4 linked regions of the Homo sapiens genome follow. The protein of the gene in region 1 purifies or fractionates together with the protein of each later gene. This does not show direct contact. Each region holds a gene or a part of one and is shown in the gene's direction. Other genes may lie near its edges.

Region 1 (7,000 bases):
TTACAAGTACATGCCACTGTGCTCAGCCTGACCAGGGATCTTAATGGAAAGGTATAACCAGTGTGAGAAGGAAGGTATTGGGGGGTAAGAGCATTCCAGGCAGTGCACAGCCCATGCAAAGGCCCTGGGGCAGGACTGTGCCTGGCGTGTTGGAGGAACAGCGAGGAGGCCCGTGTGGCTGGAGCAGAGTGAGGACAGGGAGAGAGGGAGGAAGGGTTGGGCAGGGCCTGTGAGCCTTGGGGTGGTGTGGGGAGGTGAAGGAAGTTAAGCAGTTTATGTTTTAATGTAAGTGTGATGGAAAATCAGAAAGCAGGGAAGAAATAGTCCAATTGAAGTTTTTGTTTTTGTTTTTGTTTTTGTTTTGAGATGGGGTCTCACTCTGTTGCCCAGGTGGGAGTGCAGTGGTGTGATCTCGGCTCATTGCAACCTCTGCCTCCCAGGTTCAAGTGATTCTTGTGGCTCAGCCTCTTGAGTAGCTGGGACTACAGGCACTCGCTACCACGCCCAGCTAATTTTTGTATTTTTGGTAGAGATGGGGTTTCACCAACATGGCCAGGCTGGTCTGGAACTCCTGACCTCAAGTGATCCACCTGCCTCAGTCTCCAATTTAAGTTTTAATAAAAAGACCTTGGTTGGGTGTGGTGGCTCATGCCTGTTATCCCAGCCCTTTGGGTGGCCAAGACTGGGTGATTGCTTGAGGCCAGGAGTTCAAGACCAGCCTGGGCAACATAGTGAGACCCATCTCTAAAAAACAAAAATGACTGGGCACGGTGGCTCACGCCTGTAATCCCAGCACTTTGGGAGGCCAAGGTGGGTGGATCATGAGGTCAGGAGTTCGAGACCCACCTGGCCGAGATGGCGAAACCCCGTCTCTACTAAAAATACAAAAAAAATTAGCCAGGCGCAGTGGCGCGCGCCTGCAGTCCCAGCTACTCGGGAGCCTGAGGCAGGAGAATCTCTTGAACCTGGGAGGCAGAGGTTGCAGTCAACCGAGATCGCGTCACTGCACTCTAGCCTGGGTGACAGAGCAAGACTCCTTCTCAAAACAAAACAAAACAAACAAACAAAAAAACACAAATGAACAACAAAAAAGTGCAAGCGGCTGGAATCAGAGGAGAGGGAAAGAGGAATGGAGGTTTTCGCCCCAGGAAATGTGTGAAGGGCAGCAGCCTTTGTCCTTAATTGGAAACACAGAGGGAGCTGCTGCCGGAGTAGAAAGTCTGCTTTTAGCTGTGAGAAGTCTGACGTGTCTGTTAGACCCCCGGAGAAGTTGAGGTTATGTGAAGTTCCTGGCATTTGAGATGCAATTGCAGAGGAGGGTAGAGACATGAGATCTGGAGAAGGGTATTAGGCAGCTGGAACAGCAGGTGCAAAGGCTCGAAGGCCAGATCCAGCCTTCCCATTGCGGAAACAGAGAAAGAAAAGTCCCCAGGCTAGAGCAAGAGGGAGGGAGCAAAGGCACTGCGGAGGGTGGAGATGAGAGAGGCCAGGCCAGGCTGGTATGTAGGGCAAGGTTTAGATTGTATCCTAGGGGCCCTCAGAGGATCCTTCCTTAATCCTCCAGCCCCCATCACGTTCTGAGTCTCGGAGGGAGATGGGCCTTATCTGACAGTAGAGAGACTGAAGTTTAGAGGGGCCCTGAGCTGGGGGGCAGGCAGCTGGGGATGACAGCAAGAGTGGGGTTCAGAGGGGAGGGAGGCCCAGATACTCACCCCAGATCTGCACCAGGAGGCCCAGCACCATGCCCGGGGACCCCATTCCTGGCCCATCACCCCCCTCTCCCCCTCCCAGTTGACAGACTTCCTGCCACAATCTCCGCCTCCCGCTGCAGAAGCAGATGCAACACCCAGGGCCAGACAACAGACGTCCGGTGTTCCAGCCTGCTGGGGGCTCCACTTCCTGCCACCTCGTGCCTCAGTTTCCCCAATGCATTTTCTATCTGAAAGGCAGTGTACGGACCAGGCAACATGGCTCATGTCTGTAATCCCAGCACTTTGGGAGGCCGAGGCAGGTGGATCACCTGAGGTCAGGAGTTCGAGACCAGCTTGGCCAACATGATGAAACCCCTACTAATTTCTACTAAAAATACAGAAATTAGCTGGACATGGTGATGGGCGCCTATAATCCCAGCTACTTGGGAGGCTGAGGCAGGAGAATGGCTTAAACCCGGGAGGCGGAGGTTGCAGTGAGCCAAGATCACGCCACTGCACTCCAGCCTGGGCGACAAGAGTGAAACTCCGTCTCAGAAAAAAAGAAAAGAAAGGCAGTGTATGCAAGTGAGTGGGAGGAATCCACCCCTGTGAGCTTTCTGGAAGGCTCTACATAAACACATCTAGGTACAGGAAGACACAGTGCGAGAGCAGGTGGCTCCGTGGGGGAGGGGCAGGCGACATAGGCCTGAGCAGTGAGTTAAATGACAGGGTCCCTGCCTCAATTATTTTGCTCCCAAAATGTCTTTCTTTTGCTGGGCGCTGTAGCTCACACCTGTAATCCCAGCACTTTGTGAGGCTGAGGTGGGAGGATCACTTGAGCCGAGTTTAAGATCAACCTGGGGTAACACAGCGAGATCCAATCTCTATTAAAAAAAAAAAAAAAAAAAAAAAGATACAGGCTGGGCATGGTGGCCCAGGCCTGTAATCCCAGCACTTTGGGAGGCCAAGGCGGGTGGATCACCTGAGGTCAGGAGTTCAAGACCAGCCTAGCCAACATGGCAAAACCCGGTCTCTACTAAAAATACAAAAATTAGCTGGGCCTAGTGGTGGGCGCCTGTAGTCCCAGCTACTCAGTGGGGTTGAGGCAGGAGAATCGCCAGAACTGGGGAGATGGAGATTACAGGGAGCCGAGATCCTGCCACTGCACTCCAGCCTGGGCGACAGAGTGAGACTGTGTCTCAAAAAAAAAAAAAAAGATACAAAACCAACCCAGGGTGATGGTGCATGCCTATAGTCCCAGCCACTCGGGAGGCTGAGGCAGGAGAACCGCTTGAGCCCAGGAGTTGGAGGCTGCAGTAAGCCATGATTGCGCCCCGTTACTCCAGCCTGGGCAACAGAGTGAGTCCGTCTCTAAAAAAAAATAATAATAATAATTTAAAAAATCTTCCTTTGAGGTTCAGAGAAATAGATTTCTGTTGATAACTTTGGGTCCTATTACATGACCTGCTTGGGGGTCCCGTGGAGGAGGTTCATGGGCTCTCGAGTTCCTCCCAGCCCTGCATCCCTCACCCCTGATTCTGTAGTGCATTCTGGGAGGAGGTGGCGAACCCACAGACCTCAATGTCTCAGACCCAACTGCAGAGTGACCTCCTTTCTCACTCGGACCTAGAAGGCCTGCATCGTACACAGCGTTCCCCTCCACCACAGGGAGGTTCTGCGGTGGCTATGCCTGCACCTCCCCTGCAGACACGTACACCCGCCCAGCCTCCCCTACCCACTCCTTCCCCTCCCCAGAACATTCTGAAGCTCCACCCTTCCCCCCACCGTCTGCTGAGGGACCCTGGATAGATTAGCCCCCAGGTCCTTCCAAAGCTGGACCCAGACATTCTTAGCTTCCGCACCTGGGCTGGCACGGAGACTTCTGGAGGAGCTGTTGGAGCCTGGGGCTTTGTGGGGTGTATAGGAGTTCAGTTGTGACATAGGGACAAATGGAAAGAAGGCACTGGAGGCTAAACACCCTCTTGGGCAAAAGCCTTAGATTTTCAGTAAATGCCAGGCGGGCTAGACAATTTGAGTAGCAACGGATAACCTGTGTGAGTGAACAAGTGGGGAAACTGAGGCACGGGAGCATTAGAGATGATTCTGAGGTCCCACGGCAGGGCCAGGGGTCGAGCCCCTTGTCTTCTCATCCAAGGCTCTCTCCAGCTCACATATCACCACCAACACCGCCCAGTGAGCCCCAGGCGCTGGATGTGAGGGCTCTGGGCGAGGCCAGCGCGGAACTACATTTCCCAGGCGGCCGCGGCGGGTGCGCCTGCGCAATGCGCGCGGTGATGGAGCGCTAACCGGGGGCGCGGCGGCGGCGAGGGCTCGGCGGGCCATTGGCTACCGGCCGCGGCAAAGGCAGCTTGGGGACCCAGCGTGCGCGGGGCCCGCGGGCCGGGCCGGGGTGACCTGGGCTGCAGCCATGGAAGAACAGAGGGTAGGACGGGGTGGGGCAGGGCGGGCCCGCAGGGGCGTCGGGGGCGGGGAAGGGGACCAGGTGTTGCCGCAGCGCCCCCACTCCCTCCCCGCCTCCACCCCAGCTGCTCTGCGGCTGAGGCCCCACCCCATTCGCGACCCCGCCCGGATCTAGCCCCCCTACCCCAGTTTGGGACGCAGCCCCCCCACATCTTGGCTTGGGGCCAGGCACGTGCCTTCTACGCCCCCCCACCCTGCCCAGTATCCCAGTCCCATCCCTGACCCCCATCCCCCACGCCCTCCCTCCTGGCCGCGGACCAGGCGTCCCGGCCCCCCGCCCCACCCCTGGAAGACGCCCCGCCAGCTCCGCAGTGCGGACCCCACCGACCCTGCCCCAGGAAAAAGGAGCAGGTTGGAGCCTGGGTCAGAGCAAGAGGCTCCCGAGCGGGATCCTCCCTCCCAGAATCCCCTGCCCTTCCCCAAGACCTCCCTGCCCCCTCCCCGCTTACCTGGCGCCCCCGCATCCCTGGCCCCCAGGTTCCACCTTTGCCCAGGTAATTTCTTTCTCCTTGCTTATCTTTCTCCCCCAGGTAGGCCCCACCCCTGTTCCGAGGCTAGCCCCTATCCCAGGCTATCCCACCTCCCTGGGGTTTTTCCTTCCACCGAGAACCCTTTCCCCAGGTTAGCCCATTTTCCAGCAGACATCCTTCTCCTCTGGGGTTTTCTGTCCTCAGGCTAGCCCCTCACGCCCCACCTTCAGGATGTAGGTATCGGGTTGTAGCCTTTGTGCTCAAGCACGCCTGGTTCGGGGCCAGGGTCTGTCCCTTCCTGAGAGGTTCTCTGTGAGCCTCAGTTTCCTCTCCTGTAATATGGGGTAGCTTAGGGCGCCCAGCTGCTATGGGTGAATTGTATCAGCCCGGAGCTTTACCTCCTGGCTGGTGCCCAAGCTCAATAGCGTGGCAGCCCCCACATCTCCTCTCTGGATCCCTGGAGGGGAGCGCGGGTCAGGGAGCCTGGCCAGGCTGACGGGCTCACCTGCCTGCCGTGTGTGTGTGCGCATGTGTGTGCATGTGTGTGCGCACGCGTGTGCATTTATGTACGTGTGTGCATGTGTGTGCACGTGTGTACATGTGCGTACACGTGTGTGTACCTGTGTGCGCACATGTGTGTGTGCACCTGTGTGTGTCCACACTTCTGGTGGTGCAGGAGGCCCTGAGGAAGATCATCAAAACACTGGCTGTGAAGAATGAAGAAATTCAGAGCTTTATCTACTCCCTGAAACAGATGCTGCTGAACGTGGAGGTGAAGGCGGTGGGGCAGTCCTGGGGAGGTAAGGGGAGGGGAGGAAGCTGGAGGGTGCAGCCTTAGGAACTGGCCCATTGCTGTTGATGCCTGTGGGAGGTCTCAGGTTCCCTCTCTGAACACGGGCTTTGGCCGATTCTGGCTGTTCCGACCCAGGCGAACTCGGCGAAGGTGCAGGAGGACCTCGAAGCAGAGTTCCAGTCCCTCTTCTCCCTCCTGGAGGAGCTGAAAGAAGGCATGCTTATGAAGATAAAACAGGACCGTGCCAGCCGTACCTACGAGCTGCAGGTGAGGGCTGAGGGCATCTTCCTCTCCCCCCGCCCCTCCTACTCAACAGAACGTAGCTGACCTCGGCACCTTCCTCCAAAAACTGGGTGCTCTCGAGTTTCTGATCTCTCCCCTGACCCCTCCATCCACCTGTACACTCTCTCTTTTTTTTTTTTGAGACGGAGGTCTCGCTCTGTCGCCCAGGCTGGAGTGCAGTGGCATGATATCGGCTCACTGCAACCTCCGCCTCCTGGGTTCAAGCAATTCTCCTACCTCAGCCTCCCAAGTAGCTGGGATTACAGGTACCCGCCATCATGCTGGGCTAATTTTCGTATTTTTAGTAGAGATGGGGTTTCACCGTGTGGGCCAAGCTGACCTCAGGTGATCCTCCTGCCTCAGCCTCCCAAAGTGCTGGGATGACAGGCATGAGCCCCCGCGCCTGGCCCATCTGTGCTCTCTCTGAATCCCCTCTCCATCACGGCGTCCCCGAGTCTGGCTCAGATCTTCCCCTCCTGTCTTCACTCAGTGCCTCCGGTTTCTCAGCCCTTCCCACTGGCCCCCCAGATCTGAAGGTATCACCTCCACTCAAACACCACCCATGGCTCCCGTGGGCTGTCACTCAGACTCCAAGCTGGAGTCACACAGGCTGCATCCAGACCTCCTGGGCAACTTCCTGACATCCCAGATTCCTGTCCCAGGGGGAATCTAGAGCCCTGGAGCTCGGATGTGGCCTAGGCATGTGAGTTTTTGGTTTGTTTTGTTTTGAGACAGAGTCTTATTCTGTCACCCAGGCTGGAGTCCAGTGGCGCAATCATGCCTCACTGCAGCGTCCGCCTCCCAGGCTTAAGCGATTCTCCCATCTTAGCCTCCCAAGTAGCTGGGACCACAGGAAGGTGCCACCACGCCCAGCTCATTTTTGTATTTTTTGGTGGAGACTGGTTTTCACCATGTTGCCTAGACTAGTCTTGAACTCATGGGCTCAAGCGATCCTCCTGCCTTGGCCTCCCAAATTGCTGGGATTACAGGCATGAGCCTCTGTGCCTGGCTCATGTGAGTTTTTTTTGTTTTGTTTTGTTTTTGAGATGGAGTCTCTCTCTGTGACCCAGGCTGGATCAGTTGCACAACCTCAGCTCACTGCAACCTCCGCCTCCCGGGTTCAAGTGATTCTCCTGCCTCAGCCTCCCGAGTAGCTGGGATTAGAGGTGCCCACCACCACACCCAGCTACTTTTTTCTATGTTTAGTGGAGACAGGGTTTCACTGTGTTGGCCAGGCTAGTCTTGAACTCCTGACCTCAGGTGATCCTCCCGCCTCAGCCTCC
Region 2 (7,036 bases), on another chromosome or scaffold:
GCAAAACTAGGGAGTCCACCAGGGGCTGGCACAGTGGTATTGGGAATCGGAAACCACTGCTTTGGATGGAGGAAGTCTTAGAGTACCAGGATCAGGGACAGACACATGGTCTTGGTGGGTGTTAAAATTTGCAATGCAGTATTGGAATAAATGCAATACGCTTATACCTACTACCCTTTTCCATCTGCTTCTGGCAAGGCAGTGAGACTTCTTTTCATACTTTTTGGTATAAGCTATGTATACTACCTTCATGGCGCAGTGCAGGCAGTTTTTCCCCTTTATAAAGTACCTTCTTTTAGTTTTAAAAAATTTAAGCAATTTGGTCTTTCCTGCCTTCTCATTTCTTCAGAAATATGCCTGTTACAGGAGGTGAGGCAAATCTATTTGATTCTTCTGAAATAGTTTTGGAATTTTTGATATATGGAATTTTGGTAGTTTATGCTTCGTTTTTATCTTTTAATGGTGTATTTAATTTTTTTTCTGTTCTCGAATATACAGAAAAATGTATGCTCATCACTTAACCAGTTTTAATGTGTTGATAAATTGCTCCCCATTAAAGCCAGTTGAGATCACATTGTTTGGCATTCTTTTTTTTTTTTTCAATCACACAACTCATCTTAGTTTACTTTTTGTGTCATCTTTGTAGGACGTGCACGGTGGCTCACACCTATGATCCCAGCATTTTGTGAGGCTGAAGTTGGAGAATTTATTAAGGCCAGGAGTTAAAGGCTGCAGTGAGCTATGACTGCCACTGCATTCCAGCCTGGGTGACAGAACAGGACCCTGATTCTTTTTTTATTGAGAGGCAGTCTTGCTCTGTCGCTCAGGCTTGGAGTGCAGTGGCCCGATCTCAGCTCACTGCAACCTCTGCCTCCCGGATTCAAGCAGTTCTCCTCCCTCAGCCTCCCGGGTAGCTGGGATTACAGGCATGTGCCACCATGTCTGGCTAATGTTTGTAATTTTAGTAGAGACGGGTTTTCTCCGTGTTGGCCAGGCTGGTCTTGAACTCCTAACTTCAGGTGATCCGCCCGCCTTGGCCTCCCAAAGTGCTGGGATTACAGGTGTGAGCCACTGCGCCTGGCCTAGGACCCTGATTCTTTAAAAACAACAACAACAACAACAACAAAAATGGTCTTTGTAAAAATTTTTAAATGTCAAAAAAAATTGGCTTACCATCATGGCTGATAAATGAGGAATGCTGAAAGTTCAAGCTGTTGGTTTTATATATATATATATATATATATATATATATATATATATATATATAAAATTATATATAAATGTATATATATAAATAAATAAATACATATATATAAAATGATCTAAGTTTATCATTTATCTTTGGGAGTTAGTCACTGTTCAAGTCAGTTTCTAGGTTTTAAAAAATTTTTTTATAGAGACAGGGTCTCACTCTGTTGCCCCGGTCAGAGTGCAGTGGTGCGATCATAGCTCACTGTAACTTGAAACTCCTTGGCTCAAGCAATCCTCCTGTGTCAGCCTCCCAAGTAGCTGGGACTACAGGTGGGTGCCACCATGCCTGGCTCTCTCTACAAGACAGGATCTTGCTATGTTGCCCAGATTGGTATTGTTGGAAATCTTACTCACATTTACAGTTTACTTGGCCTCAAGTGATCCTTCTGCCTTGTCCTCCCAAAGTGCTGGGATTACAGGCATGAGCCACTGCACCTGGTCAAGTTCTAGTTATTTTGTTGTTTCCTACATTGCCTTTTCTCAAATTAATCTGCTTCTTGGTATATTATTATAGCTTCAAGGTTTTTTTCTTTCTAAAATATTCACTAATTCACATTTCAATACTAATGATTAGGATAAAGATGGTGATAGAGCAGTTCACCATGCAGCTTTTGGAGATGAAGGCGCTGTTATAGAAGTACTACATCGAGGTAGTGCTGATTTGAATGCTCGAAACAAGCGCCGACAGACACCACTTCATATTGCTGTCAATAAAGGTCATCTTCAAGTTGTGAAGACTTTATTGGACTTTGGCTGTCATCCCAGTCTCCAGGTAAAACCTTTAAAGAAACACATCCTGCAGGTATTGCTAGGATCCTATTAAAGGGAAACATTAAGTTCTATGGTAAGCATTCCTTTGTTACCGTTCTCATATGTCATAGTAAATGATACCAAAGGCGTAAGATGTTACAAAATTGGCAGCTATTTCTTTTTTAAAAAGTTGTTTTTTTTTAGGGAAAATGCCAATAGATTGGGTTTTGATTGGGCAGGGAGAATGAGGACTTCTTTGTAAAAATATCAGCTTATGAATGGATTTAACTTTATTGATCATGACAGTGAGCTCAACAGCTTAAAGAAGTGTAATAGGCTATATTTCATAATAGTTACTTCATAACTATTTAAATTATTTTAATTGTAGCTTTTATTGTAGCTTAGGGACTTTGAATAGTCGTTAGTGTAATCTTCGGAGATTTCTGTTTTGGAAAATGTATAGGATTTTAGAGTTGATTTACAGTAGGATCTAATTTTTGAAGCAATGATTGCCTAAGAAATGATTATCCCCAGCTACAGTTTTATAACCAGATAAATTAAACCACAAATATATAGAAAATGTAGTCTGTGTCCATTTTCTGCTTAGTTTGGTTACTAAGCAACTTGTCTTTTGTGCACCTGTTTGATTAAAGTTTCTATACTTAGTAATTTTGTAGCTCCTGAATCTAATTTGCCAACTTTTAGGTTCCTTAACCGAATAGGCTTGAAACAACATATTATTTTTAAATAAAAGTGTTCCCTGAAATACTATTTGAATATGTAAAACATAATTTGTTTCCATTGGAAACTCAATAATGATTTTTTAAAAAGTAGGGCAGTGGTTAGAATCATAAGCTGCTTGTAGTTTAGATAATTTACAGCATCCAGGAATTGGTTGCTGGATTGGATAGATCTCAGAGAAGAAATAAAGAACAGTAGTAGTGGGAATGAGGGCTTGAGAAGAACTGAAAGAATAGATTTTGTTCAGCTAGATAATTATTAGAAATTAAGGTTTTTGAAGTGCAGCTGTTTTGGAACTGTTGGGATCTAGAGTATGTCCTTGTAAGTGGGAGGCAGGATTGGAGGATGAGGGAAGAATTGGGGGGGTGTTAATCTGTAAGGAGAGGTGATTTATACCTGCTGACGTTTTTTGTCTGAAATGGGAGACAAGTTCATCTGTTGAGAGTGGTGGGTAGAGAAAGAGTAATTGAGAAGAGTGATAAGGACTTGGGGACCTGCAGAAGGGTGTTCCAATCATGTTAGAAGCCCGTTTCAGGTTGAACACTACAGATTTTTAGTGCCGCCAGATACAGGAGTAGAAGGTAGATGGTAGATGGTTGGATTGAACTTGGGTTAGGAATTCTTTTTTTTTTTTTTTTTTTTTTTTTGAGGCAGGGTCTTGCTCTGTTGCCCAGGCTGGAATTCAGTGGCGTGATCATGGCTCATTGCAGTCTCAACCTTCAGGGCCCACCTCAGCCTCCCGAGTAGCTGGGACTACAGGTGTGAGCTGCCATGCCTGGCTAATTTTTTGTAGAAATGCCCAGGTTGGTCTCAAACTTCTGGTCTCAAGCAATCTTCCTGCTCCCACCTCCCAAAGTCCTGGGATTACCGGTGTGAGCCACCATGCCTAGCAGGAATTCTTTATGTAGGTGGATGAATATATTCCTGGGATTAGCAAACATTTTCTATATTGGGCACAGATAATAGTGGCTTATTGGCTTTTGCCACAACTATCTAACTCTCATTGCAGAATGAAAGCAGCCATAGATAATACATAAATGAATGGGTGTGGCTGTGTTCCAATAAAACTTAATTTACAAAAACAGGTGGCTCCAATGTGTAATATCCTGGGATATCATTTTTTCTAGGCTTTGTCCACATGGCTTAGGGGAGCATAGGGCTCTGCCCCATGATGTACAGTCCCTTTCCTCAGTGTTGGAGATGAAGCTGGGTCTGGTGTTTGCACTTTCATATTCCTGTAGCTTCTCAGAATCCTGTGGACAGTGACTGGGGAGACAAACCATGCAGGAAATATGTCTAGTAAAAAAGAATAAAACAAACAAAAAACAAGTGGCAAACTGAATTTGGCAACTGTAGTATATGCTGTAGGCCAGGTTGTATATGACTTTACTGAGAATAGCATCTGTTCAACTATGAAATGAATGAAATTTAAATTATTCATGTCTGTACATGACTGCTAATGAATAAAAACTTACTGCTAAGTCAATTGATTAATGTAAAAAGTAGTCAGCTTGAAAAAATGGTAGACTGAGATTGCTAAATTTTAATTTACAATTGTTTTACCTTTGGCTAACTAGCCACTTTGCTGCCCTTTGAAAACGCTTAGATTAATGTTTCTCACCTGTGACTGCACAAGATGTTCATCTGTGGAGCTTTGAAAAATTACTCATGCCTCACTCTCACCTCTAGAGATTTAGTATGGTGAACAGCCTGGACATCAGATTTTTTTTTCTCTTTTTTTTCCTCTGTACAACAGATTTTAAAAGATCTCCCCAGCAGGTTCTAATGAGCAGCCAAGTTTGAAAGCCACCGACTTTCAATTCATTGTTATGGTGTAGGTTTGGTATGGAATTTCAGGGTATGACAATTAAGGCCATTTTAAACTTATAAAATTTGGGGGGCAGCTTTATCACTTCACTGGTTTTTGTCATTAGTTATATTTGAGGCTACTTCTTTTCTTTTCTTTTTGCTTTGTAAAGCTTCAGCATGTGCCAGGAGTGGTGGCTTATGCCTGTAATCCCAACACCTTGAGAGGCTCATGTGGGAGGATCACTTGAGCACAGGAGTTCAAGACCAGCATGGGCAACATACTGAGACCCCCATCTCTACAAAAAAAGAACTTTGCCGGGCAAGGTGGCTCACGCCTGTAATCCCAGCACTGTGGGAGGCTGAGGTGGGCAGATCACGAGGTCAGGAGTCTGAGACCAGCCTGGCCAACGTGGTGAAACCCCGTCTCTACTAAAAATACAAAAATTAGCTGGGCATGGTGGTGGGTGCCTGTAATCCCAGTTACTTGGGAGGCTGAGGCAGGAGAATCGCTTGAAACCGGAAAGTGGAGGTTGCAGTGAGCTGAGATCGCGCTATTGTACTCCAGCCTGAGTGAAAGAGCGAAACTTGGTCTCAAAAAAAAGAAAAAAAAATTCCAGCATGCTTATTTTGTTTTCCAACTAGATTTGAGTATGTCTTTCCTTACTATAATGTGGCCAGTGTTTCTTGCCTGTATTTTTGTTTTTTATATTTTTGGAGATAGAGTCTCGCTCTGTCACCCTGGCTGGAGTGCAGTGGCATGATCATAGCTCACTGGAGCCTTGAACTCCTGGGCTCAAGCCATTCTTCTGCCTCAGCCTCCTGAGTACCTAGGACTATAGGTGCACACCGCCGTGCCCGGCTAATTTTTAAAATTTTTTGTAGGGACAAGGTCTCTATATGTTGCCCAGGTTGGTGTTGAACTCCTGGCCTCTGCTGATCCTCCCGCCTCAGCCTCCCAAAGTGCTAGGGTTACAGACATGAGCCAGCATGCCCAGCCTTTGCCTATATTTTTGTAGTTATCACAGAAAGTGCTCTTTTATTGGTATTTGTTGGATGTGGTCTCTGCTTCTGTTTGCTTAGCATTTGGTGTAAGTATTACTATTAGATGGGATAATTAATTGAAGAACTAATGAAAATTTCTTTAAACTTAAAGGATTCTGAAGGTGATACCCCTCTTCATGATGCAATAAGTAAGAAACGTGATGATATCCTAGCAGTTCTTTTGGAAGCTGGAGCAGATGTTACCATCACAAACAATAATGGATTTAATGCTCTGCATCATGCTGCACTAAGGGGAAATCCCAGGTATGTCACCCCTTACTATTTTAGGTGCAATTCAAAAATATTTTCCTACTGTTGATTCTCTTTTTCTGATACTGATGAAGAAATAATTTTGGCTATTTTAGTATTTTAAATCATTTTAAAGTTTTGTGAATATTATGCCTTTAGTTTTATATGATGATTATTTGGTTGTTAATCTAATACAAATATTATGAAATGATTATTTAAGTTTATATTAAATGTGGTTGTAAAATATCAGGAATACTAGTTTCTTTCTAAAGATTTAATTAAAATGCATTTTATTTTGAGATTTATGTTTCTTCAAAATAATTATCTGGGTGTCCTCTAATTTCATGTTGCCATTTGCACGATAATTATTTTTTAAAACTTAAGACTAAATAAATACTAAGTTACCTAATTCCTTATTAATAATGTAATTAGTTATATAAACTTCTAGTATAGCTATCCCCTCATCCATTGTTACAGCAATAGTATTCTACTGAAAAAAGTATTTGCTGGTTGACATTTGAGAAAGACTCCTTTTGGAGAATCACATTCTTTATGAAGGATCTGCGGTGTCCCACAGAATGGGAAAATGCTTAGCTTTGCTTAATTTAGAGATTTCCATTAACTCACTTTTTGGAACAACTTTACCCTAAGCATTTTAGGAAATTCTGCATTGGATGTCTTCTGTTTATGTTTGAGTCAAACCTGTATACCTGGACTAAGAAAAATCTTCACTTTGATTTTTATTTTGATAATTTTATCTATTCTGAACACTTATTCTTTGGTTCCTTATTGTATTTTTATATCATGTTTCCTTTAGCTTCTTAGGATCACCACTAGAGGGTGACCACAGGAAACAAAAGGATTTTATTGCTACTGCTTATTGGTAACTGTAACAGTGGGTATATATTGTAGGACAAAATGAATGATCATATTTTAGATCACATCTTGATTTTTTTTCCAAATTGCAAATATTTGAACACTTCAGATTTTGGCATTGTGAAGAAGACAGTAGTATTATATTTCCCTGCCCTTCAAACAGAAGATTATGATAGCACTTTCCACATGCCAGCCTCTGCAAAGTGCTTCACATGCATCATCTCACTTAATCCTTTCAACAGCTTTTTGGGGCAGGTGTTAATATCCTCATTTTACACGTGAAGAATATGAGGCTTATAGAGATGAATTTAATTATTCA
Region 3 (5,877 bases), on another chromosome or scaffold:
ACCGAGATCGCACCATTGCACTCCAGCCTGGGCAACAAGAGAAACTCCAGCTCAAAAAAAAAAAAAAAAAAAAAAAAAGAAAGAAAGAAAAAGAAAACAGGAGGATTGGGCTATTTCCACATCAGGGTCCCATTTAATACCCCCTTAAAACATCAGCTTTCCTTCCAGAGACTGATCATTGAGAAAGCAGTACTGCTGACATAGATCCTGCCTACTTATAAATCATAATGGTTGGTAATCTCCATTAAAAAGAATAAATTTTCCCCACTGTGGTTCAGATGACGAGTTCCAGTTATTACAGAGAAATTTCATGGACAAGTACTACCTGGAGTTTGAAGACACAGAAGAGAATAAACTCATCTACACACCTATTTTTAATGAATACGTAAGTAGATTTCTATGTCTCCTACCAGGAGGTCAGAGTTTTTAAAAATTTAAATTTAGATTCAAAAGACATTGAAATTTGCTGCCTTTTAAAATATGCCACCAGTACACTTCCAGGAATCCTCATTAGCATCTGGTTTAAGTTCATTTTCCTCTGCACAGCCTTTGGGGCTATTTTCCAAAAGGCTTTCAGGCAAATATTTGATTAACTCATCAGCTTCTTATTTAAAAGAAGTTTGACCTGGGCTTGGTAGCACACCTGTAGTGCCAGCTATTTGGGAGGTTGAGGTGGAAGAATCACTTGAGCTTAGGAGTTTGAGACCAGCCTGGGCAACACAGCAAGATCTCTGTCTCTAAAAAAAAAATGATAATAATAAAGATAATAAATAAAAGACGTTTGGCTTATCATAATCCTGCTTTTAATCACAGTACATGAGTTCTTCATACCTTGCATTTGCATGCTTTTGACAAACCTTTCTGCTTTCACATACTCTTTCTTTCTTCTATATAATCCAGTCATATATGCATGACTATTAAGTAAAAGTGAAAACTGAGACCAAGATCACTAACTATTTGGTGGAAAAACCAAGACTGGAACCCAGGAACCTCAGCTCGTCACCCTTGGGTCTCTACACTTTACCCTGAGGCCTCTTAACAGCCCCCTGGGATTCTGTCATCTAAGAATCCATTTTGGCCTCCAGGACTTTATTTTCTTAACACAGAAGCATGGCATAAACAAACCTGCCCAGAAGGAACCTGTGACTGCCTCCATGTCCGTATGTTCTGTTACACAGATGCCCTCTACCCAGGAGGCAAAGCCCCCACTTACTGCATCCTGCACTGGGTTGTGGGTGTGGGTACCGTGCTACTCACTGTCTCCACCTGTGTCAGAGCATCCACCCTGTTACAGCACCATTATCAGCTAAGGCTTCTCTTCCACACCAGGCTGAGTACTTCTCCAGGACAGGAGCTGTGTTTTGGTCCTCTTTGGTATCCTTGGCACTCAGTGTAGATTGTGGCACACAGACCTCAGGAAATGTTTAGAAAGGGCTGGGCAGGCTTTCTGAAAAGAAGTCTTGTTTTCCCAAAGTATGGTCTCACCAAAATCCTTTCCACTGTTGCAGATTTCTTTGGTAGAAAAATACATTGAAGAACAGCTGCTGCAGCGGATTCCTGAGTTCAACATGGCAGCCTTCACCACAACATTACAGTGAGTTGAGCTTGACTGATTTTTGTGTTTTGTTTTGTTTTCTCACTTTCTTCCTTCCCTAGGCTGACCAAAAGACGCTCCTTGTTTGTTTTCCTGTGCATGCCGTTGGTGGTTAGGTCCTATGGAGGAAGCCCTCAAACCTTTTAATGAAATCTTGAAAAGATCAGGCATTGGCTCACGCTTGTGTTCTCAGTGCTTTGGGAGGCCAAGGGAGGAGGATCACTTGAGCCCAGGAGTTCAAGACCAGCCTGGGTGACATAGTGAGGCCCCGACCCTACAAAAAATAAATTAGTCAGGTGTGGTGTTGCATACCTGTGGGCCTAGCTACTCAGGAGGCTGAGGCTGGAGAATCCCTTGAGCCCAGCAGTTCAAGGCTACAGTGAGCTATAATTGCACCCCTGCACTCCTGCCTGGGTGACAGAGCAAGACCCAGTCTCTAAAAAAACAAAACAAAAATAATGCGGGGGGTGGGGCTGGGGTGGTGGAAAGAAAAACGAAAGCAATCTTGAGGACTGTCTCATCATTCATTCACGAAACAGCCATCTGTTCCGTTTGCAGGCACCATAAGGATGAAGTGGCTGGTGACATATTCGACATGCTGCTCACCTTCACAGATTTTCTGGCTTTTAAAGAAATGTTTTTGGACTACAGAGCAGTAAGTTACTACTCCTATTTATTTAGCCACTTTGAGCCACTTAGAAAATTCCAGGTAGAAATACCGAACATGAACCTCCCACGCTTCCCCCATCATTCTCCCTTCAAACTGGCCGATGAGGCATCAGAAGAGTGAGCTGCTATTCTGTTGTGGCTGGGACCTTCTCATGTTTTCATGAAACAAGCCCAGGTACCAACTTAGAGTTCCTAATCAGAAGGACAAAACCGAAAAAGCAGGTCTCAGGTCTCATTCTGCCTTGCCTTTCTTTTATTTATTTTTTTTTTTGAGACAGAGTTTTGCTCTTGTCACCCAGGCTGGAGTGCAGTGGCACCATCTTGGCTCACTGGAACCTCTGCCTTCCAGGTTCAAGCAATACTCCTGCCTCAGCCTCCCGAGTAGCTGATACTACAGGCACCTGCCACCACGCCCAGCTAATTCTTGTATTTTTAGTAGAGACAGGGTTTCACCATGTTGGCCAGGCTGGTCTCAAACTCCTGAAGCATGGTCCGCCTCGGCCTCCCAAAGTGTTGGGATTACAGGCGTGAGCCACCGCACCTGGCCCTGCCTTGCTTTTCATATAATGCAAGCTCTTTATAAGAAAAATAGGAGACTGGGCATGGTAACTCACACCTATAATCCCAGCACTTTGGGAGGCCGAGGCAGGCAGATGGCTTGAGCTCAGGAGTTTGAGACCAGCCAAGGCAACATGGCAAAACCCTGTCTCTATGAAAAATACAAAAATTAGCTTGGTGTGCTGGTGTGCATCTGTAGTCCCAGTCAGCTACTTTGGGGGCTGGGTGGGAGGACCGCTTGAGCCCAGAAGGTTGAGATTGCTGTGAGCTGTGATTGTACTGCTACAGTCCAGCCTGGGTGACAGAGTCAGACCCTGTGTCAAAAAAAAAAAAAGAAAAGAAAAAGAAATGGTGTTGGGTGTGGTTGTGCATGCCTGTAGTCCCAGCTACTTCGAAGGCTGAGGCAGGAGAATCACTTGAGCCTAGGAGTTTGGGGCTGTATTACACAGCAGTGGTGCCTGTGAATAGCCACTGCACTCCAGCCTGGGCAACATAGCAAGACCCCTATCTCAAAAAAAAAAAAAAAGAAAGAAAGAAAAATGTTTTCCAGTGAAGGGAGGTACATTTTAAGAGTGCATTTTAAGAATGACCAGGGCCAGGCTGGACACAGTGGCTCATACTTACAATTCCAGCGCTTTGGGAGGCCAAGGCAGGAGAATCACTTGAGCCCAGGAGTTCAAGACCAGCCTAAGTGACATATCAAGACCCTGTCTCTACAAAAATAAAAATAAAAAAGTTAGTCAGCTGTAGTGGTGCACACCTGTAGTCCTAGCTACTCAGGAGGCTGAGGCAGGAGGACCACTTGAGCCCAGGAATTCCAGGCAGCAGTTAGCTGTGATCAAGCCACTATACTCCAGCCTGGGTGACAGAGCAAGACCCTACCTCTTTAAAAATAATATTAAAAAAAATTAAGACTAGGGCAGGCCAGTATTGAGCAGAAATGCAGAATAACCAATAACCTGTGTTCCCTTCCTATGTACTCTGGAGGTCCACGTTCCCACCTTCAGCTCTGCCTTCCCCATGTCAGAGGCAAGATTCCAAGCCAGGGCTCTTTCTAGTCCTTCCTTTGGTTGTTTTCTCATATAGGAAAAAGAAGGCCGAGGACTGGACTTAAGCAGTGGCTTAGTGGTGACTTCATTGTGCAAATCATCTTCTCTGCCAGCTTCCCAGAACAATCTGCGGCACTAGGTCCTACCTCCAGCCAATGAATGGGATCATTCTGGATGTCACCAGCCCAATAGGCTCAGCTCATGATGACAGAACACATCTTGGAAAGACTGACTCTGTTATGTAACTCTTCATTTATGTTAAGTATTAATAGGTCAAAACCAAAATGACCTAACCCTCCTGGACCTATTTATCCTGAAACACCTTCTTGTATTCATTAACCATAGTACTCCTCCCCACCTCAAGTAGACACCTCTCTCAGGAGCTTCTGAGTCAGACGCCTCTGGAGCGAGCCCTATGTCAGGCACTCCACCTGGGGGGCCCTTCCCCAGCATACCTGCTGGTGTGTAAGTGTGGACTAACCCGCCGCCACCACCCTCTGTTCCAGCAGGCTCTGCATGAATCTTTGTGCACTTGCACCTCTTTTTCACATGGGCCACAGTTTCAGTACTTCAGCCTCAGTGGGGTTCCTGATGTTTATCTAGGGTGTTACTCAAGCCCAGTTTGAGATTTTGGAGTCTCCTGTGATCACATCTTGTCTCGGCTGTAGGAATCAACAGAAGGAGACGTCCTCTACATAAAAGCTCCATGTGAAAAGCTACTCCTAGTCTTAACATTTGCAGTCCTTGTGTCACTGTCTTCTGGTCCTGATGTAGTCCCACTGTTTCTAGAAGTCTCTTTTAAGCATTATTTTTGAAAAAAAAAATATTTTTATAGATGAATACTCAGGCTAACCTAGTGGATGTGATCTTGGAACTTCCATGATTATCCACTTAAAGATCAAAGTATTATATGCTGTGTGCTTTTTAGGTGTTTGTTAGTACTGTGAAGGCAAAAATGCTTTCTACATTGACATTCATTCCTATTTTACTGGGCACCTATGAATGTATGCTGTGTGCTAGAAATAGACTAAAACATATTCCTATAGCATGTTAGTGTGTTTGCATGTTTGCTGAAAATCCTTTGTGTATAAACCAGTTTGTAAGGTTCTCTGGGTTAGGTAGGGACTCTGCAGTTTCTTCCTGTCAAAATCTCTCCTACCAAGATGGTGTTCCACTGTCCAGCCCAGCATGAGTAGCAGGTAGAGCACAGCTTTACTGGCTGTTTGTATGCTTTGGTTTAGTGCAATGTGTGGTAGATTACTTATCAGAAAACATATATGTCATCTCTAGAACGAAGAAAAAGCATAGTAGTTCAATTCCCAGTGTGTCCCTTTGATTTTTTTTTTTTAATAGTAAAAATAAGAATCTGTACTGACTTTTCACTTGGCCATTCTGGTTTTAAAGGACAAGCTACAAGCTCTGTGTTTCTGTACTGATGTGTCACTTATTAAATACTTTTGTACCATGAGTAAAACTTCAGGTGTTTCGCAAGAACCACCATTCTCAATGAGTTGTATTCTTTCTTTAATGTAGCCACTGCCATAAGGTTATTAATTATTGCTTTGGTCTTTTTTTTTTTTTTTTAAATGCCACCTCTCCTGGGCTTGCTTTCCCTTGCTTTGTCTATAAATGGGAGGTCCACCACAGCCCAGGCATGCTGGGAGCACTTGCTAAGACCTGTGGACCAGCCTGCCTACTTGAGAAAAGGCCAGTGGACAAGTCCAGAGATTAAATGATGAAAAAACGATGATAAAGGCAAATTGGTTTTTCACCCTTTTTTTTTTCTTTTTTTTTTGGGAATGGAGTTTTGCTTTTGTTGCCCAGGCTGGAGTGCAATGGCACGATCTCGGCACACTGCAACCTCCACCTCCCGAGTTCCAGTGATTCTGCTGCCTCAGCCTCCCAAGCAGCCGGGATTATAGGTGTCCACAAACACGCCCAGCTAATTTTTGTATTTTTAGTAGAGACAGGGTTTCACCATGTTGGTCAGGCTGGTCTTGAACTCCT
Region 4 (7,036 bases), on another chromosome or scaffold:
AAAAAAAAAAAAGGAGAGGGCTTTACACACACTCCCTTCCCTTTCCCCAGTTCTTGTTCATTCCATCCATAACTCTCAGTGTGCTCAACACCAGGTGTGTATATGTTTGTGCTGAGCTGGTAGATAGCGTGTCATGAGCATAATAGGGAACCAGAGGAATTGGGGCTCTTTGGTCCACTAAAGGCCCAGTGACTGGAGCAGGTGACTCTCTGGCCACCCCATCCCCTCTCATGGGCACAGTGTTTTACCGCCGGCACTGGAGTTCATGTGTAGAAGGCAAAGCTGTCCCATGGTCAAGAATGCAGGCTTTCGGCCAGGTGCAGTGACTCATGCCTGTAATCTCCCAGCACTTTGGGAGGCTGAGGTGGGAGGATTGCTTGAGGCCAGGAACTCAAGACCAGCCTGGGCAACATAGTGAGACCTGTCTCTACAAAATAAAAAGTAGAAAAAAGAGCCGGGTGTGGTGGCTCACACCTGCGGTTCCTACTACTCAGGAGGCTGAGGCAGGAGGATAGCTTAAGCCTGGGAGGTCAAGGCTGCGGTGAGCTGTGATTGCGCTACGGTGCCCCAGCCTGGGTGACAGTAAGACCCTGTCTCAAAAAAAAAAAAAAAAAAAAAGCAGGCTTTGGTGTTAGACACTTCACTTCCAGGATCTACCACAAGCTGTGTGACCTTGGATCAGCACTTGACCTCTCTGGTCATTGCCTTCATTTGTAGGATGGGGATTACATCAGCCTCAGTTATAAGCAATGTATGAGCTAATGTATGTGAAGTGCTTGGCAGACACTAAAAACTTAATATTGAGAAATGGTGACTGTCATCATTATTATTGATTCAGAGAAATCCCTGATTCAGGGGAAACGTCATTCCCCTTTTCACTGCAGGCCTAGGCAGGCCCGGGTTAGGGTCCTGGTCTCCTGACATCTAGTTCCTGCTCAAGAGTGAGAACTGTTATTATTATTACTATTATTGAGACAGAGTTTCACTCTTGTTGCCCAGGCTGGAGTACAGTGCCACAATCTCTGCTCACTGAAACCTCCGCCTCCTGGGTTCAAGCGATTCTCCTGCCTCAGCCTCCTGAGTAGCTGGGATTACAGGCCTGCACCACCATGCTCGGCTAATTTTTGCATTTTTAGTAGAGATGGGGTTTCACCATGTTGGCCAGGCTGGTCTTGAACTCCTGACCTCAGGTGATCCACCCGCCTTGGCCTCCCAAAGTGTTGGGATTACAGGCATGAGCCACTGCGCCCGGCTGAGAGCTGTTATTACTATTCTCATTCCTCTGCCCAGCCTCTACCCTAGGCCTCCTCCACAGCAACCTGGTGACTGATTATGAGCCAGAACAGACTGTGCTAGGGGAGGGCCTGTGGGGAAGGGGCTGTGACGTGGTGGGAGACTCTTGGGGCTGCTTTCTGTCTTCGTGGGGCCGCCCCTGTGCACAGGGCAGGCCTGAGCAGGGCTTTTCCCTGGAAGGTACCTGAAGCACACCCTGGACCAGTACGTGGAGAGTGACTACACACTTCTGTATCTGCACCACGGCCTGACCAGCGACAACAAGCCCTCCCTCAGCTGGCTCCGTGATGCCTACCGGGAGTTTGACCGCAAGTGGGTTGGGGCATGGGGCCTGCACAGTCAGATCCAGAGGCAGCGGCTCTGCCAGCTTCCGGGCTGCCCTCCACTTGGGCAGGAGCTTATTCCAAGGCAGGGGGTGGCGGGGGCTGCCGTCTACGTCAATGTAAAGAATCTGCAGTCAGATCACCCTGGGCTTAAGTAAGGCCCAGTTTCTCAGCTTATTTGCACTCTGACCTCTTGTTTTACTTAACCTCTTTGAGCCTCCTGTTTTCTAATCTGTAAAATGAGACAGTGATGGCCCTTACCTCGCATGCTGGCCATGCATGTTCAAATCAGAAAATATGCACTGAGGCAGGGTGTGGTGGCTCACACCTGTAATCCCAGCACTTTGGGAAGCTGAGGCGGATGGATCACTTGAGGTCAGGAGTTCCAGACCAGCCTGGCCAACATGGTGAAACCCTGTCTCCGCTAAAAATACAAAAATTAGCTAGGTGTGGTGGTGGGTGCCTGTAATCCTAGTTACTCAGGAGGCTGAGGCAGGAGAATAGCTTGAATCCGGGAGGTGGAGGCTGCAATGAGCTGAGATCACACTCCAGCCTGGGTGAAGGAGACTCTGTCTCAAAAAAAAAAAGTATGCACTGGGACCCTAGCGTGGCACCTGTCCCACCACGCCTGCTCCTGAGTTGTCCATTCTGTCTCTGCAGGTACAAGAAAAACATCAAGGCCTTGTACATCGTGCATCCAACCATGTTCATCAAAACTCTGCTCATCCTCTTCAAGCCCCTCATCAGGTGAGTGGCCACGGGCAGGGCTGGTGGTCCCGGCTTGCCTGGAACTCTGAAGCTGGGAGGCTGGGCAGCCTGGGGACCACCAGGTGCGGCTGGGCTTCCGTCTGAACTGGGTGGGTGTTGAGGGGAGAGTGGAGGCCACCGGAAGCGGGCCCCCACAACCCAGGCCCTTTCTTCCACCAACAGCTTCAAGTTCGGGCAGAAGATCTTCTATGTGAATTACCTGAGCGAGCTGAGCGAGCACGTGAAGCTGGAGCAGCTGGGGATCCCTCGCCAAGTGCTCAAGTGAGGCGGGTGCGGCGGCTGGGGGCTCGTGAAGCCAGGGTAATGAGGACGTGTGTCCTGATTCAGAGACCGCGTGGGGCTTAGGCAGAGCAAGCCCGTGTCCCGACCTCTCCCAGGTCTTTGCTTTCTGCTGTGGAAAGCGGAGTTGTTACAGAGATCGCATGAGATGATCCTCCTGACCCCGCGTGGTCAATGCTTGATTGAATTGGCAGAGTGACTCCAGAGCCAGGCAGGACCTGACCCACCTCCCTCTACTCCTACAGATATGACGACTTCCTGAAATCCACACAGAAGAGCCCCGCGACAGCCCCCAAGCCCATGCCCCCACGGCCCCCCCTGCCCAACCAGCAGTTTGGAGTCTCGCTGCAGCAGTAAGTATGAAAGGTGGCTGGGCCACGGCGGGGCGGGAAGGGCTGCAGGCCCGGCTCACCAGCCTTTTTCCCGCAGCCTCCAGGAGAAGAATCCAGAGCAGGAGCCCATTCCCATTGTACTCAGGGAGACTGTTGCCTACTTACAGGCCCACGGTGAGTGCCGGGCCTGCCTCCTCACCAGCCAGGTCTCCCGGCTCCCTTCAGGAAGCTGGGGAAGCTGCTGGGCAGGGCAGAGGGAGGTCCTGCAAGCCTCAACGTCCCCACCCAGCCCTGCCTAGAACCCCAAGACAGAGAAGGGGCAGGGAATCCAGCCGGTGCCCAGCGCTCGGAGGCTCACCAGGCCCTACTGTTTCCCAGCTCTCACCACCGAGGGCATCTTCCGGAGGTCGGCCAACACCCAAGTGGTCCGGGAAGTGCAGCAGAAGTACAACATGGGTGAGCAGCCCTGGGCTGTTGCAGGGCCATATGTGTGTTACTGGTAGGGGGCTTCTCTGCCCTCTGCTGCCCTGTAAATGAGAGTCTCAGAGTCTCTTCCTGCTGGAGGTTTCCGTGGCTCTGGGTGTCACATAAGTCCTACTTCTGCCAGGCCTGCTGCCTCATCGGTCGGGCTCCCGGGTCCTGGGTATAGGCACATTCAGAGGCAAGGAATAACGGTGGGGTGTGCCGGGCCCCACTTCCCCAGATGGCCGGAACCTGCATTCTCTGATCACAGAGGAAGAGGGAGGCAGGTGTCAGAGGGCGCCCCTGGGAGGAGGGGCTTATGCAGTGTCCAGGGGCAGTCAGGCAGTGCGGCCCGCGTTGTCTGCAGATGGGTGCTGCCCTTCAGGCTGTGCCGAGCTTCTCTCACGCTGCCCCCACCCCAGGGCTGCCTGTGGATTTCGACCAGTACAATGAGCTGCACCTGCCAGCAGTCATCCTCAAGACCTTCCTCCGGGAGCTTCCTGAGCCCCTGCTCACCTTTGACCTCTACCCCCATGTGGTGGGCTTCCTCAGTGAGTCCCCATCTCTTCTGTTGGGCCTGGGGCTGGACTTGGGGCAGGTGCGCTGCAGGCTTTCGGGCCTAGGCGCCTCCCAGGGAAGACTGCTGGGGGTCTCCCCTCTAGCCTGCATCAGAGCGTCCTGAACCAGCCCAGCCTAGGGCCCCTATAACCCGGGCCTCCTTTCCTCATAGACATTGATGAAAGCCAGAGGGTGCCAGCGACACTGCAGGTCCTCCAGACGCTGCCCGAGGAGAACTACCAGGTGCTTCGTTTCCTGACTGCTTTCCTGGTGCAGGTGAGACCTTGGACTTGGCCTCTGGGGTGAAGGGAGGGGGAAGGAGGAGCTGCCGCCTCCTCTGCGCCCTGGTCATTGTTGCTGGGAGTGGGAGGCAGCATCTGTGGCTTCCTGCTGCAGTCCCTGATTCCCTCCACAGATTTCTGCACACAGTGACCAGAACAAGATGACCAACACTAACCTGGCTGTTGTTTTCGGCCCTAACCTGCTGTGGGCCAAGGATGCGGCCATCACCCTCAAGGCCATTAATCCCATCAACACCTTCACCAAGTTCCTTCTGGATCACCAAGGGGAGCTGTTCCCAAGCCCGGACCCCAGCGGGCTCTGAACCTGGCCCCTGCCCCACCAGCCCCTTCTCTGGTAGCCCGGGTTTGGACTCTTCCTCCTGGCATCAGGGGCCATGAAGCCCCCTGGAGAGAGATGTTGGAGCCACCCATCAGGCATGCTCTCCCCCACCTCTGTCCAGCCCGCCTCACGGCCCTGGCGGCCTCGCTGTTACCAGAAGACGTTTTTCTCTGCCTTACACTTCTCACTGCCTCTCTGGACACCGGGCTTTTGCTGGGCTCTCCAGAGCTGGGCTTGGCTCTTCCAGCTGGAGAAGGACTGAGCCCCAGTAACCCCTTTCCTGCTTTTTCCTGCCTCTGTTTCCCTAGCAAGTGTGGATGAATCAAATGACTGCCGGCTGGGCTGGTAGCAGGGGCCAGTCCTCCCCTCTTGATTGCTGGGAATGAGCAGCTGAGCTCTTTGGTGTGGACACCGCCCCAAGCTGAGGTGCCTCCCTATCTGGTAGGCTGCCCTGCTTTGCAGAAGCCCCACTGCATGAAGGCCTGAGTGCAAGCACCCTTGCTCCTGTACTGCCCCCAGCAGCGCAGTCTGGGGTATTTCCCCTGCTGAGGAGTGACAGGGCTGGAGACTGTGTCTGCTTTCTGCCTCCTCTTCCACACATCCTGGGTCAGCCTTTCCCAAGTGATACTGCCCCTGGGGTGTCCTAACCCCTTGGTTGTGCAGGGACTGGTAGCTTGGATGACATGGCTCAGAGTCCCAGCATCCACTTGAAACCTCCCTCTCCACCTCCCCGCCCCCGAGAGCTACAGCGTGTGATGGAATCAGTGACCGGCCAGGTTAGCCTCTCCCCTCTTGGCCTCCTTTCCCACACGGGCAGATCATCAGCCTTCATGTTCTTGTGGACCTGTCTGTTACGGAGTCACACTGGCCCCTGCCCCAGCCAGAGGTGACTCAGTGCCTCAGGATCTTATGGCTCCTTCCTCCAGCTGGGGGACTCTTAAAGGGGCTGGGGTAGAGACTAAGAGTGCCCGTAGGAGGGGCAGAGATTGTGCTGATAGGTCAGTCCAGATAGGTGGGTTCTAGCAATTTCCCCAGGGGATTAAGGGGCTCTAGGGCCACCTTTTTTTTTTTTTTTCTGAGATGGAGTCTCGCTCTGTCACCAGGCTGGAGTGCAGTGGCGCGATCTCGGCACACCTCCGCCTTCTGGGTTCAAGCAATTCTCCTGCCTCAGCCTCCTGAGTAGCTGGGACTATAGGTGCATGCCACCATGCCCAGCTAATTTTTGTATTTTTAGTAGAGACGGGGTTTCACCATGTTGGCCAGGATGGTCTCGATCTCCTGACCTCATGATCCACCCACCTCGGCCTCCCAAAGTGCTGGGATTCCAGGCGTGAGCCACTGCACCCGGCCAGCCCTGTTGTCTTTCAAAGAACCTCGGCCCCAGTGATGGCTGATCTCACTCCCACTGTCTCGTAGAATTACACTCCTTCCTGGGGATCCCTCTTCCTGCAGCCTTGTCCTTGGGGAGTACAGGGAAGTACCTGCAGTGACCCTGCCCCCATGACCTTGGCCAGGCAGGATGATTCCAGAGCCCGTACTGTGGGGATCCTCACTGACCAGCCCAGCCCCATCCGCAAGCCAGGCTGGGCCTGGGCATAACTTCGCTGGGCTCTCCCAAGACCATCAGCAGTGCATCCAGCCCCCTGGGGCCTGGGCTGCTGCTGGTTCTTCATCAGTCCCTTGGTCTCTAGCCTCGGCCAGGGCTGCTCTGCTCTCCGCCCTCCTTTGTGTATCAAGTGTCGCTCACAGCCCCATTCACTGGGGAGCCTTTCGGATCTATTTGGTCTTTCTCATGTCCCCCACTGGTCTGTACCCCAGGGAGCGGGTGCTTGTACTGTGTGAATCCAGTGTTCACATTCACACTTAATGACTTCCTTGGCACCAATCATGTATTTCACCGTTTGCACTTTTTGTATTTCAATAAAAATGTTGATGCAAAACTGCTCATCTGGATGTTGGGGAAATGAGTTGGGTGTGGAAGTTGGAAACTGGATGGGAAGTGTGGTGCGGTGGAGGAAGAGGAACAGATGGGGCCTCAGGAAGTCCCCTCCCCAGTCCGTCTGCCGCTTCCTCATCTTGTGCACTCGAGTGGTGATGAGGGCAGCTTCCTGACCAGCTTCTAGGCATGGAGGTGTCCACGGCCACCTTCCCGTTGTTTGTACCCCCAGCATTCCAGCAGGCCACCATGTGCTGCATCCTATGACCAGGGCCTCTCCTGTTTCCCAACTGGAAGGTACCGGAAGTTTGAAGGGATCTTAGATTTATCTAAGGCAAGCAGGGGGAAGAAAAGTGGTGTGGACTGTGATGGACAATGGTGTGGGATCTGGAGTCACACGAGAGTTTGAGTCCTCGTTCCCTCACGTGCCAGCTCTCACCGCTAACAGTCATCATCACTGGCTC

The links.
Region 2: the proteins of FSD1 (region 1) and MIB1 purify together in Homo sapiens (affinity purification with mass spectrometry; 3 studies listed by BioGRID and IntAct, with this or other methods). This does not show direct contact.
Region 3: the proteins of FSD1 (region 1) and ARL2BP purify together in Homo sapiens (affinity purification with mass spectrometry; 3 studies listed by BioGRID and IntAct, with this or other methods). This does not show direct contact.
Region 4: the proteins of FSD1 (region 1) and ARHGAP1 purify together in Homo sapiens (affinity purification with mass spectrometry; 3 studies listed by BioGRID and IntAct, with this or other methods). This does not show direct contact.

Annotation. Positions count from the first base shown.
Region 1 is NC_000019.10:4,300,628-4,307,627, forward strand, and holds the start of FSD1 (fibronectin type III and SPRY domain-containing protein 1), read left to right. Parts: upstream 1-3,970; 5' UTR 3,971-4,119; coding exon 4,120-4,134; intron 4,135-5,318; coding exon 5,319-5,414; intron 5,415-5,570; coding exon 5,571-5,702; intron 5,703-7,000. Other genes in the region: TMIGD2 (transmembrane and immunoglobulin domain-containing protein 2 isoform 1 precursor), read right to left, coding at 1,713-1,758. UniProt on the Homo sapiens protein: May be involved in microtubule organization and stabilization.
Region 2 is NC_000018.10:21,813,791-21,820,826, forward strand, and holds part of MIB1 (E3 ubiquitin-protein ligase MIB1), read left to right. Parts: exon of another isoform or gene 1-105; coding exon of another isoform or gene 106-114; intron 115-1,825; coding exon 1,826-2,023; intron 2,024-3,833; exon of another isoform or gene 3,834-4,038; intron 4,039-5,704; coding exon 5,705-5,856; intron 5,857-7,036. UniProt on the Homo sapiens protein: E3 ubiquitin-protein ligase that mediates ubiquitination of Delta receptors, which act as ligands of Notch proteins.
Region 3 is NC_000016.10:57,248,259-57,254,135, forward strand, and holds the end of ARL2BP (ADP-ribosylation factor-like protein 2-binding protein), read left to right. Parts: exon of another isoform or gene 1-278; coding exon 279-385; exon of another isoform or gene 386-1,508; coding exon 1,509-1,594; exon of another isoform or gene 1,595-1,713; intron 1,714-2,152; coding exon 2,153-2,249; intron 2,250-3,445; exon of another isoform or gene 3,446-3,534; intron 3,535-3,907; coding exon 3,908-4,009; 3' UTR 4,010-5,377; downstream 5,378-5,877. UniProt on the Homo sapiens protein: Together with ARL2, plays a role in the nuclear translocation, retention and transcriptional activity of STAT3. May play a role as an effector of ARL2.
Region 4 is NC_000011.10:46,676,620-46,683,655, reverse strand, and holds the end of ARHGAP1 (rho GTPase-activating protein 1), read left to right. Parts: intron 1-1,473; coding exon 1,474-1,605; intron 1,606-2,276; coding exon 2,277-2,363; intron 2,364-2,546; coding exon 2,547-2,645; intron 2,646-2,908; coding exon 2,909-3,016; intron 3,017-3,092; coding exon 3,093-3,169; intron 3,170-3,373; coding exon 3,374-3,451; intron 3,452-3,879; coding exon 3,880-4,008; intron 4,009-4,187; coding exon 4,188-4,291; intron 4,292-4,430; coding exon 4,431-4,619; 3' UTR 4,620-6,576; downstream 6,577-7,036. UniProt on the Homo sapiens protein: GTPase activator for the Rho, Rac and Cdc42 proteins, converting them to the putatively inactive GDP-bound state. Cdc42 seems to be the preferred substrate.